Homo sapiens: one gene and its partners. The protein of the gene in region 1 interacts with the protein of each later gene in a pairwise test. Each region holds a gene or a part of one and is shown in the gene's direction. Other genes may lie near its edges.

Region 1 (3,652 bases):
CAGCTGTAAATTTAAGGTTAAAGGGAGTCAGGGGAGATGGTGATGAGAGGAAATGATTACAAGTTGAGTTCAGTGGGGCAAATAAGGAACTCTTCTGTCTCTCCATGCAACATTCTGTTCCCCTTCATCCCACAAGTTACTGGAAACCATATTATCTTATGGCTCAGTAATGCAAAGATGCCTCACTCCATCTAAATAGCCTTTAGAGGTTTTAATATAATGATCTATTGGGAATGTAACGATAAGTTAATTTTTAATACATAGCTGATATCTTTTTTGTATTTCTTTTGATCAGAAAGTAGAGATAGGAGTTGCTAAAATTTTGGGGACTGCTGGTAACATTCCAAGAAAGTGTGTGAAGCTAAATCACCTACTGACAATTACTATTTAATCTCCCTTTCTTCATAGCACATTGTTCTTAATGAGGCTGTTTTGACATCCTACTAGATGCGAGATAAGCAGGCCAGACCTTAAAGGGTGCGGGCTCTGAAATGTTTTTTTGTGTGTGTTTTTTTTGTTGTTGTTTTTTTTCTGTTTGTTTGTTTTTTTTTTATTTGAGACGGAGTCTCGCTCTTGTTGCCCAGGCTGGAGTGCAATGGGGCGATCTCAGCTCACTGCAACCTCTGCCCCCGGGTTCAAGCGATTCTCCTAACTCAGCCTCCCAATTAGCTGGGATTACAGGCATGCGCCACCACACCTGGCTAATTTTGTATTTTTGGAGAGATGGGGTTTCTCCATGTTGATCAAGCTGGTTTTGAACTCCCGACCTCAGGTGATCCACCCACCTCAACCTCCCAAGGTGCTGGGATTACAGGCATGAGCCACCGTGCCCGGCCCTGAAATCTTTTAAGTCTCTTTGGCTACTAGGCCCCAGGTTGGTCACAGGACAGCAAAAAACAGGACTGCATTTCATCAACAGCAGACTTGAGGAGCATCATCAGGAACCAGTAACAATGAAAATAGAAGTCAGAGATCATAGAATAACATTATTTTAAACCATGGGACCAAATAGGGTAATTTGCTGCCTGTGTGACTTTTCTGATTTTTAAAGTATGGGCATGACTCTTTTTGAAAGATTATTATGAGTAAATTTTAGAAAACTGACTGTTTTATTTATCGTTTGTCAGTACGAGGATGTCGTCCAGGAAAGATTGTGCAGATGACTGAAGCAGAAGTTCGAGGCTTATGTATCAAGTCTCGGGAGATCTTTCTCAGCCAGCCTATTCTTTTGGAATTGGAAGCACCGCTGAAAATTTGTGGTATGTAAATGGGTAAAGTTGGAAACAACTCTTTTGAATCATGTTTTTCCTCCCATGTTTAAGATCTAGAGAAAACATTTTTTGAAATTTTTGTATAAAACAGATCAGTAGGCTTTACTAAATAAAAGTGTATAAAAATTGAAACTTATAAAAATGACAAGTTACAGACAAGATGAAAATACTTGCTATATATCAACAGATAAAAGGAGTTCTATTTATAATATATAAAGAGTTCTTATAAATAAGAGAAAGGCGATACAGTATAAAAATAACATAGGAAGAGGAAGGTCTTAGAAGAAATTCAAATGGCCAGTAAACATAAGGACGTCAGCTTCTTTTTTTAGTAATCAGTGATGTGCAATTTAAAGCAAGTCTCCAACTCTAGTCAGATTATAAAAAAATACCAAAGATTGATGTTTAGTGTTGTCAAGGATGTCACGAAAAGGGCATCATAGTACACTGGTTAGAAAAAAATAGGTGTATAATTTAGAGGGTCAATATGGCGATATCTGTGGTCTTCTAACTTTGATGTTATTTAAATTTGTTTTGAAGATTATACTACTTTATACCTTGTATTCTTTTAAGTTTTACAGTGACTTTTTTACAGTCCTTTGTACAGTGCCCAGCAAATAAGAGATACTCGCTAAGTAAATGTTTGTTTTTTGTTTGTTTGGTTGGTTTTTCTTTGAGACAGAGTTTCACTCTTGTTGCCCAGGCTGGAGTACAATGGCACAATCTTGGCTCACTGCAACCTCCACCTCCCGGGCTCAAGTGGTTCTCCTGCCTCAGACTCCTGAGTAGCTGGGATTACAGGTGTGAGCCACCACGTCTAGCTGACTTTTTGTATTTTTAGTAGAGACAGGGTTTCTCCATGTTGGCCAGGCTGGTTCTGAATTCCTGACCTCAGGTGATCCACCTGTCTTGGCCTCCCAAAATGCTGGGATTATAGGCATGAGCCACCGCAGCTGGCCAATAAATGTTTGTTGAATGGATCAGTTAACTTAGAATATCACACCTTCAAGTAAGAGGTAGTAGTTCAGAATTTGGGGGAACTAATCAATCCCCTGTATAAACTTAAGCAAATGTAGTTACTTAGAGGTGATCTTAAAATTATTAGAATTAAAGTATTCTTTGAAGGTGTTCTTTAAAATGTAATATAGAAATAACTTGAAGGTAATGGAAGTTATTTGTACTACATATTTCTAAAGGTTTACTATTTGTCTCCATATTTGGTGTTAAAAAGTGACGTAAGTTAAACTACCAGATAATAAAATTGTTTTAGTTACCTATTGTTGTATAATAAATCATTCCAAAACTTTGTGGCTTACAGCAACATTAATTTACCATCTCACAATTTCTGTGGGTCAGGAATTCAGGAACAGCTTAGTGGGTCCTCTGGCTCTGGGTCTCTCACAAGGCTCCAATTAAGGCGTGATCTCGGGCTGCAGTCATCTGAAGGTTGAACTGTGAAAGGATTCAGTTCCTTATAGACTGATGGACTAAGAGCCTCAGTTCCAAATGAGCTGTTGGTCAGAGGCCTCCCTCAGTTCTTTGCTACGTGGGATGCTTCATTAGACAGCTGGTTTCATCAGCGAGCATGGAAGAAGGTGAGAGAGTGCAAGCAAGATGAAAGTCACAGTCTTTTGTAACTTAATCTTGGAAGTGACAGCCCATCTCACTTTCGCTTATTAGAAGTAAGTCACCAAATATAGCCCATACTCAAGGGTAGGGGAGGATTACACAGGATGTGAACATTGGGAATCATTTCATAGAAGCTGCTTATAACAGTAACCAATTTTTCTAAAACTGACTCTTTCTCTTTTTAGGAGATATTCATGGACAATATACAGATTTACTGAGATTATTTGAATATGGAGGTTTCCCACCAGAAGCCAACTATCTTTTCTTAGGAGATTATGTGGACAGAGGAAAGCAGTCTTTGGAAACCATTTGTTTGCTATTGGCTTATAAAATCAAATATCCAGAGAACTTCTTTCTCTTAAGAGGAAACCATGAGTGTGCTAGCATCAATCGCATTTATGGATTCTATGATGAATGTAAGTGAAAATAAAGACTTAGAAAAGTAATTCATGGAAACATTGCCTAATAATTTTCTGGTTCAGAAGAGTTGCTTTGATTCAGAGTTTTTTCAAAATAAGATCTGTCAGGCATAGGCCAGGAAGAGGAACCTGAAACTGGGAAACATGTTACTAATTAAATTGGTTCCTTGAGATCTCCTTGGTCATATTTCAGATTGACTGCAGCTTACTTGGCTGAAGAGGCTCTTTTAAAATTAGTTTATCTAGTAAACTATCCAGGTGAAACAGAAGTCACTGTAGGCAGTGGCCCTTGGTTTTCTAGTGTCCATTAAGGTTTTAACTCTCGGCATTCTT
Region 2 (3,652 bases), on another chromosome or scaffold:
TATTAGCTCACTGCAACCTCGGCCTCCCCAGGTTCAAGCGATTTCTTGTGCCTCAGCCTCCCGAGTAGTTGGGATTACAGGTGTGCATCCGTCTTGTTTTTGTATTTTTAGTAGAGACAGGGTTTTGCCATGTTGCCCAGGCTGGTCTCGAACTCCTGGTCTCAAGTGATCTACCTGCCTCGGCCTCCCAAAGTGCTGAGACTACAGGTGTGAGCCACTGCACCCAGCTGATTTTTTTTTTTATTTGACTGTTGTCCTTGGGGTATAGAGATTTCAACTCTTTCTAATGAAAAATCTCAGATTTGAAATCAAATCTCAGTCCAAGACTCCCGTCTTTGCATCTGGCAGGGGAGTCTACCAGATATAGCAAAATGGCTTCCCTAGAATTTCCCCCTCCCAAACCCCCACTGCCTCCCTCAATTTTATGTATGTATGTATGTATGTATGTATGTTTTCTTTTGAGACAGGGTCTCTCTCTGTCACCCAGGCTGGAGTGCAGTGGCTCAATCACAGCTCATTGCAGCCTTGAACTCCTGGCCTCAAGCCATCTGCCAATCTCAGCCTCCCAAGTATCTGGGAACCACAGGCTCATGCCACCATGCCTGGCTAGTATTTTTTTTAATAGTAGTGGGATCTTGCAACGTTGCCCAGGTTGGTCTCAATTCCTGGGCTCAAGTGGTCCTTCCCTCTTGACCTCCCAAAGTGCTGGGATTACAGGCATGAGCCACCATGCCCAACACCCCCGCCCCCAATTTATTTTTAAGTTTAAAATATGAATACGTGAAGGCGTTCAGGTCTGTCACCCTGGAACTCAAGGAAGCACAATTTTCAATTTCTGGTCAAATAATTGTCCCTTGGCCGGATGCACAGAACAGGTTTTGGATATTTCACAGTCTCTGAAAGGATCCTGCTGTTTCTATAATCCCCATCACCCTTACGTGATAATCTTGTAGATACAAACAGCATTATCAAATAGTTATTTAGATTTGTATAATACTGTGCCTGCCACCTGATACAGCACCACCTCTTCTTCGAGAGAGAGAGGCTGGGAAAAGACCCACCTTACATGGCTCTTCATAGCCACTCTTTTTTTTTTTTTTTTTTTTTTTTTTTTTTGAGACGGAGCCTAGCTCTGTTGCCCAGGCTGGAGTGCAGTGGTGCGATCTCGGCTCACTGCAAGCTCCACCTCCCGGGTTCACACCATTCTCCTGCCTCAGCCTCCTGAATAGCTGGGACTACAGGTGCCCAACACCACACCCGGCTATTTTTTTTTTTGTATTTTTAATAGAGACGGGGTTTCACCATGTTAGCCAGGATGGGTTCGGTCTCCTGACCTCGTGATCTGCCCACCTCAGCCTCACAAAGTGCTGGGATTATAGGCGTGAGCCACCGCACTTGGCCACCCATTTTTCATCTTAGTACTGTTTGGTATTCCCACAGCCATAGTTGCTACTACCTCTCAAAAATTTCTCCCAGAGATCCTGATTCCAAATTTGAAGAACACCAGTTTAAGCCTGGCCAGGTTTCTTTGAAGCCCAAAGCATGCTGACCCATATTAAAACAGGTAGCTCCATTATTTCCAGAGTCATGAGAGAGACACGTTAGAATGTGGTGGAGTTGGAGACTGGTGGCAGAGGATGTAGGCTAACCAGAGCATCTCATTCCTTTCTTTCTCTGAGAGCTGTATGTCTACTTCCCTCAGACTATTCCTAAAGCCCTACACCTGTTTTTCTCACTCTAGAATGACATTCAGGCTTCCCTTTCCTCTGTCTGAGGAATTCCATCACTGACCCTGTCACCTTCCAGCTGCCGTAGCAACAGCTGGGCAAATAAACACTGTTCTCATCAATTGCAGTGAAGGCATTCCTTCCTTTCCCTAGAAGAAAACTCCACTCTCCTAAATCTGGCAGAGGAATGATCTGTCAAAACAGTATACCATCCTGTTCTGTGTTCTCCACTTACAGGAATTCTAGGGACGAAGCCAGGCAAACCCAAGACAGATACAGGAGCTCTACTTGTTAGCAGGATGTTTAGTGAGCACCAGCAGTGATGACATCTAATACAGCACTTTGTTTTTTTAAAGATGGGGTCTCATTTTGTTGCCCAGGCTAGTCTCAAACTCCTGGGCTCAAGTGATCCTCCCACCTCAGCCTCCCAAGTAGTTGGGACTACAGGTGTGGGCCACTGCACCAGGCTTATCTTTATATGTCAAGAGGAATCCCTTGCTTTACCTTACCTAGTTTATTCTTTGCTTAGATTTTTTTTTTCTCTTGAAACAGGGTCTCACTCTGTCATCCAGGCTGGAGCACAGAGGCAATCCTCAAGCGATCCTCCTGCCTTAGCCTCCCAAATAGCTGGGACTGCAGCTGCACCCACCACCATGCTTGGTTAATTTTTGTAGGTTTTTTTTTTTTTTTTTGATGCAGGGTCTCACTCCGTTGCCCAGGCTGGAGTGCAGTGGCGCAATCTCGGTTAACTGCAACCTCCGCCTCCCAGGTTCAAGCGATTCTTGTGCCTCAGCCTCCCTCAACTGAGATTATAGGCATGTACCACCATGCTGGGCTAATTTTTTTATTTTTAGTAGAGACGAAGTTTTGCCACGTTGGCCAGGCTAGTCTCGAAGTCCTGGCCTCAAGTGATCCACCCGCCTCGGCCTCCCAAAGTGCTGGGATTACAGGAGTGAGCCACCATGTCCGGCCAGTTTTTGTAGAGATGGGGTCTTGTTCTGTTGCCCAAGCTGGTCTCGAACTCCTGGTCTTAAGCGATTCTTCCACCTTAGTCTCTCAGAGGTGCTGGGATAACAGTCATGCGCCACTGCACCAGGCCTGTTTTTTAGCTCTCTATAAGGGAGGCAGTTGGTTTCAAAAAATGTACATTCTGCATCTCTCATGTACCATCTAATGTTTGTCTTCCTTTGGGGTTGTTCCAGCAGCTGCTTGGTGTTCCGCAACTTTAGTTAACTATAATTTTTCTAATATTTTTATTTCATTTTTTGTATTTTGGCCTGTTATCCATATGGAACTCATTATCATGAATAGTATACATTGGGAATCTTTTTTCCCCCAGAAAATATCCACTTGTTCCAATACGATTTAATAACTAGAAGACTCTTTTCTCACTGATTTGAAATGCCACTTCTATCTCGATATTTAAATTCTCACATCTATATGAGTGTCCTCGTGTTACATCTCTAATCCCTTGCCTATGAGAGGACAGCAGGAGGGGGTATGCTTAGGGGGAGGTCAACCCTGGAGATGTAGACAGGAGCAATCCTGAGATAAACAGAAAGGCCCTTTGTAGTTGGCCTGCCTAGTACCGAAATCACTGACTAGGAAACCTCCAGAAGCCCCACTTTACTTCTCTTCATTTCTCTACCACCTCCCCCACAAACAAGAAAACCAGGTGTGTAGCTGATTACCCAAGCCCATTGCATCACATCTCTCCCAGGAGTTGTTCCTTTAGCAGCTCTACTCTGGTTGTCTGATGAAATCAACCAAAGGCTCCAGTCACGTGGCTTTCATCCTGCTAGCAGCTTCCAGAGCCCCAGGGATTATGAGGCCTCATTTTCTTGAGTTCTCTAGTGAGTTTTCAGAACTCTTTCAGCCACGGCTTGTCTTCAATCTGTCCTTCCACCAAGACTCCCTTTCTTGGC
Region 3 (3,652 bases), about 210 Mb from region 1:
TGAGTCACCACTCGTGGCCTTTCTTTTTTTTTTAAGAGACAAGGTCTCACTCTGTCATCCAGGCAGGAGTGCAGTGACAAGTGCATTCATAGCTCACTATAGCCTCACACTCCTAGGCTCAAGCAATCTTCCCTCCTCAGCCTCCCAAGTAGCTGGGACTGCAGGTACACAGCACCATGCCTGGCTAATTTTTGTATTTTATGTAGAGAAGGGGTTTCCCTATGTTGCCCAGGGTGGTCTTGAACTCCTGGACTCAAGCAAACCTCCTGCCTTGGCCTCCCAAAAAATTTCTTTCTTAAGTGCCATGTTTTTGGCTTTTTCCACCCACCCACCTCCCCCTTCTGCCCCAGTAGCAGTCATAGATGGTTTTTAGCCAAAGGGGACTTCTTCAGAAGGTGGAGCTTATTCTAAATTCTAAAGTGTTTGGCTCAATGGTAAAAGCAATTCCTTCCATTGCACAGAGAATATCAACCCTGTTAGACTTCTGCATTTGGGAGTTGGTAAGCACTTGGGTGTGCCTAGGCTCCTGTTTACCTTTTGTGTTGGAAGCAAATTAGCAGAATTGGACCCTTGAAGCGAGATGGAACAGAGTGCTCTGGGGACGAGGCCCGGTATGGTTAGTTGATCCCTGATCCCTTCGACTGATACTGAGGGGCATGTGGAAACCGCTCTTAACCCTTGGTGAAGCAGAAGTTTGTCAGGCTTCTTTAAGAAAGTTCTTGGCCTGGTACAGTGGCTCATGCCTGTAACCTCAGCACTTCGGGAGATCTAGGCGGTCAGATCGCTTGAGCCCAGGAGTTCAAGACCAGCCTGGGCAACATAGTGAGAGCCCATCTCTAAAAAAATTAAAAATATAAAAAAAAGCTCTTAGGCCAGGCGTGGTGGCTCACGCCTGTAATCCCAGCCCTTTGGGAGGCCAAGGCAGGCGGTTCATTTGAGGTCAGGAGTTTGAGACCAGCCTGGCCAACATGGTGAAATCTCATCTCTACTGAAAATACAAAAATTAGCCAGGCATGGTGGCGGGCGCCTGTAATCCCAGCTACTCAAGAGGATGAGGCAGGAGAAATGCTTGAATCCAGGAGGAGGACATTGCAGTGAGCCAAGGTTGTGCCACTGCACTCCAGCCTGGGTGACAGAGCGAGAGTCCATCTCAAAAAAAAGAAAGAAAGAAATTATAATTAATTTACTTTAAAATATTCAGTAATTTTTACACTTTAAAATTATTAAATCAGGTAAACCTTCACCAAATGTATCTTTTAACAATGAGTTCTTTTTTTTGGTTTTTTTTTGAGATGGAATTTCGCTCTTATTGCCCAGGCTGGAGCACAGGGGTGCAATCTCGGCTCACTGCAACCTCAGCTTCTGGGTTCAAGCGATTCTCCTGCCTCAGTCTCCCAAGGAGCTGAGATTACAGGTGTGCACCACCACGCCCGGCTAATTTTTTGTATTTTTAGTGGAGACAGGTTTCACCATGTTGGCCAGGCTGGTCTCAAACTCCTGACCTCAGGTGATCCTCCTGCCTTGGCCTCCCAAAGTGCTGGGATTATAGGTGAGAGCCACTGCACCTGGCCTAACAATGAATTCTTTATATAAAAAACATGTAATTCCCATGCATGAATTTTAGCTCAGTACAGCAGGCTCAAAATTTTGATCCTCTTTTTCTCTCTACATGAGTCCCATTCTAGCATGTTTTTTGTTTGTTTGTTTGTTCGTTTTGAGACGGAGTCTCGCTCTGTCACCCAGGCTGGAGTGCAATGGTGCAATCTCGGCTCACTGCAAGCTCCACCTCCCAGGTTTACGCCATTCTCCTGCCTCAGCCTCCCAAGTAGCTGGGACTACAGGCACCCGCCACCACGCCCGGCTAATTTTTTTTGTATTTTTTTCGTAGAGACGGGGTTTCACCGTGTTAGCCAGGATGGTCTCGATCTCATAACCTCATGATCCTCTCGCCTCGGCCTCCCAAAGTGCTGGGATTACAGGCGTGAGCCACCGTGCCCAGCCCTTTATATATATATATTTTTTTTTGAGATGGAGTCTCGCTCTGTTGCCCAGGCTGGAGTGCAGTGGCATGATCTTGGCTCACTGCAATCTCCGCCTCCCGGGTTCACGCCGTTCTCCTGCCTCAGCCTCCCGAGTAGCTGGGACTACAGGCGCCCATCATCACACCTGGCTAATTTTTTGTATTTTTAGTAGAGATGGAGTTTCACCACGTTAGCCAGGATGGTCTCGATCTCCTGACCTCGTGATCTGCCCCACTCGGCCTCCCAAAGTGCTGGGATTACAGGCATGAGCCACCGCGCCCGGCCCCATTCTAGCATGTTTTAAGTGAAATTCTCTGTTCTTAGAATTCTTCAAGATAACACAAAACCTCGTTTCCTAAAAACCGTTTCATTTCATACCTTCTGTACTGTTCTGACAGCTGTGTGCTCTCCCTCTTGCAGAGCAACCGGCTGACCAAGATCGAGGGTCTGCAGAACCTGGTGAACCTGCGGGAGCTGTACCTTAGCCACAATGGCATCGAGGTCATCGAGGGCCTGGAGAACAATGTAAGACACCCACTGTCTGTCTGGGGCTGTGTGGGCGGTGGGCACCAGGCGGGCAGGCACCTGGCCAGCCAGCACACACTGGCCTCTCGGGCCGGTGTCAGGAAGATGCCCTGCCTCTGGAGGTTTATCAGAAAGACCTTCCCATCCTAAAAACTAAGGGACCCTTTCCTCATACTGAAAAGTGCAGGAGCTGTGTGTGCCTGTTGGCCCTCTGCCCTGAGTGTGCCTTGAAGGGCTGACGCTTTATGTGGGATTTCAGCACAGGCTTCCCTAGGCTTCCTCAATGGGGCAGCATCCATTGCACACCCACTGTGCACTGCAGGCATTTTGCAAGATTTGAAAAAAACAAACCCAACCTGCTCGTAAAGGGCCCTGTATGAGGGTGACTGGCATCCCTTTAGGCCACTGACCTGTCCATGGGTCCACTGGCCTCAGCCCCTACTTCCCAGCCCACAGAGAGCACAGGACCAGCTCTCAGTCCCAGCCCCTTCCTCTTCTTACAGTATGAGCAGCTTCCTCCTCCCCCATTCCTCCCTGCCTGCTTTCCACACCTGTCCTCACCTGTTCATGCTCCTCCCTCCCTCCCCGGCCCTTCTCACTCAGGTGCAGGACAGCCTCACGTACTGAGGGGAAGTGTGCTCACAGAGCCCCCACCCTCCTCAGCTGCCTCCAGCTCACCCTGCTCTGCCCCAGTGCGGTGTTCAAGACAAATAAAAGACTTTTTCTCATTCAATTTTACTTGTTTTTTTCTGTTTTGTTAAATTGCCAGCAAATACAACCAGATTGGTCTATAAACATAGTGTTTCAATCTCATTAAAGGCCTTTGTGCCTCAACCCCAGGGCCTAGTTGGCAGCAGTAAATTTCACCAACACCTGCATAAAATTTTGGAAAAATTCAAATTTGCCTGTGGAAAGTTTGGTCACCTTCCTTTGACTTTGCATTGAAATTAAAAGTTTATAAAACTAGCATGCAAACCAAGTGTTCACCTGTGTAGTTTAGAGTGGTAAGTCGAGACGTGCCTGCAGTGGAATGGCGCTGAGGACTGTGTGGCAGGGGCTGGGGTTGGGGCCGGGTGGGGTGCGCAGCAGGGAGCCCTGGTGCCCTC

What was found.
Region 2: the proteins of PPP1CB (region 1) and CSRNP2 interact in binary tests that used the Homo sapiens proteins (3 or more experiments, as listed by UniProt).
Region 3: the proteins of PPP1CB (region 1) and PPP1R7 interact in binary tests that used the Homo sapiens proteins (3 or more experiments, as listed by UniProt).

What each region holds. Positions count from the first base shown.
Region 1 is NC_000002.12:28,775,724-28,779,375, forward strand, and holds part of PPP1CB (serine/threonine-protein phosphatase PP1-beta catalytic subunit), read left to right. Parts: intron 1-1,127; coding exon 1,128-1,259; intron 1,260-3,085; coding exon 3,086-3,316; intron 3,317-3,652. UniProt on the Homo sapiens protein: Protein phosphatase that associates with over 200 regulatory proteins to form highly specific holoenzymes which dephosphorylate hundreds of biological targets.
Region 2 is NC_000012.12:51,070,027-51,073,678, reverse strand, and holds part of CSRNP2 (cysteine/serine-rich nuclear protein 2), read left to right. Parts: intron 1-3,652. UniProt on the Homo sapiens protein: Binds to the consensus sequence 5'-AGAGTG-3' and has transcriptional activator activity. May play a role in apoptosis.
Region 3 is NC_000002.12:241,163,896-241,167,547, forward strand, and holds part of PPP1R7 (protein phosphatase 1 regulatory subunit 7), read left to right. Parts: intron 1-2,441; coding exon 2,442-2,546; intron 2,547-3,149; coding exon of another isoform or gene 3,150-3,173; exon of another isoform or gene 3,174-3,279; intron 3,280-3,652. UniProt on the Homo sapiens protein: Regulatory subunit of protein phosphatase 1.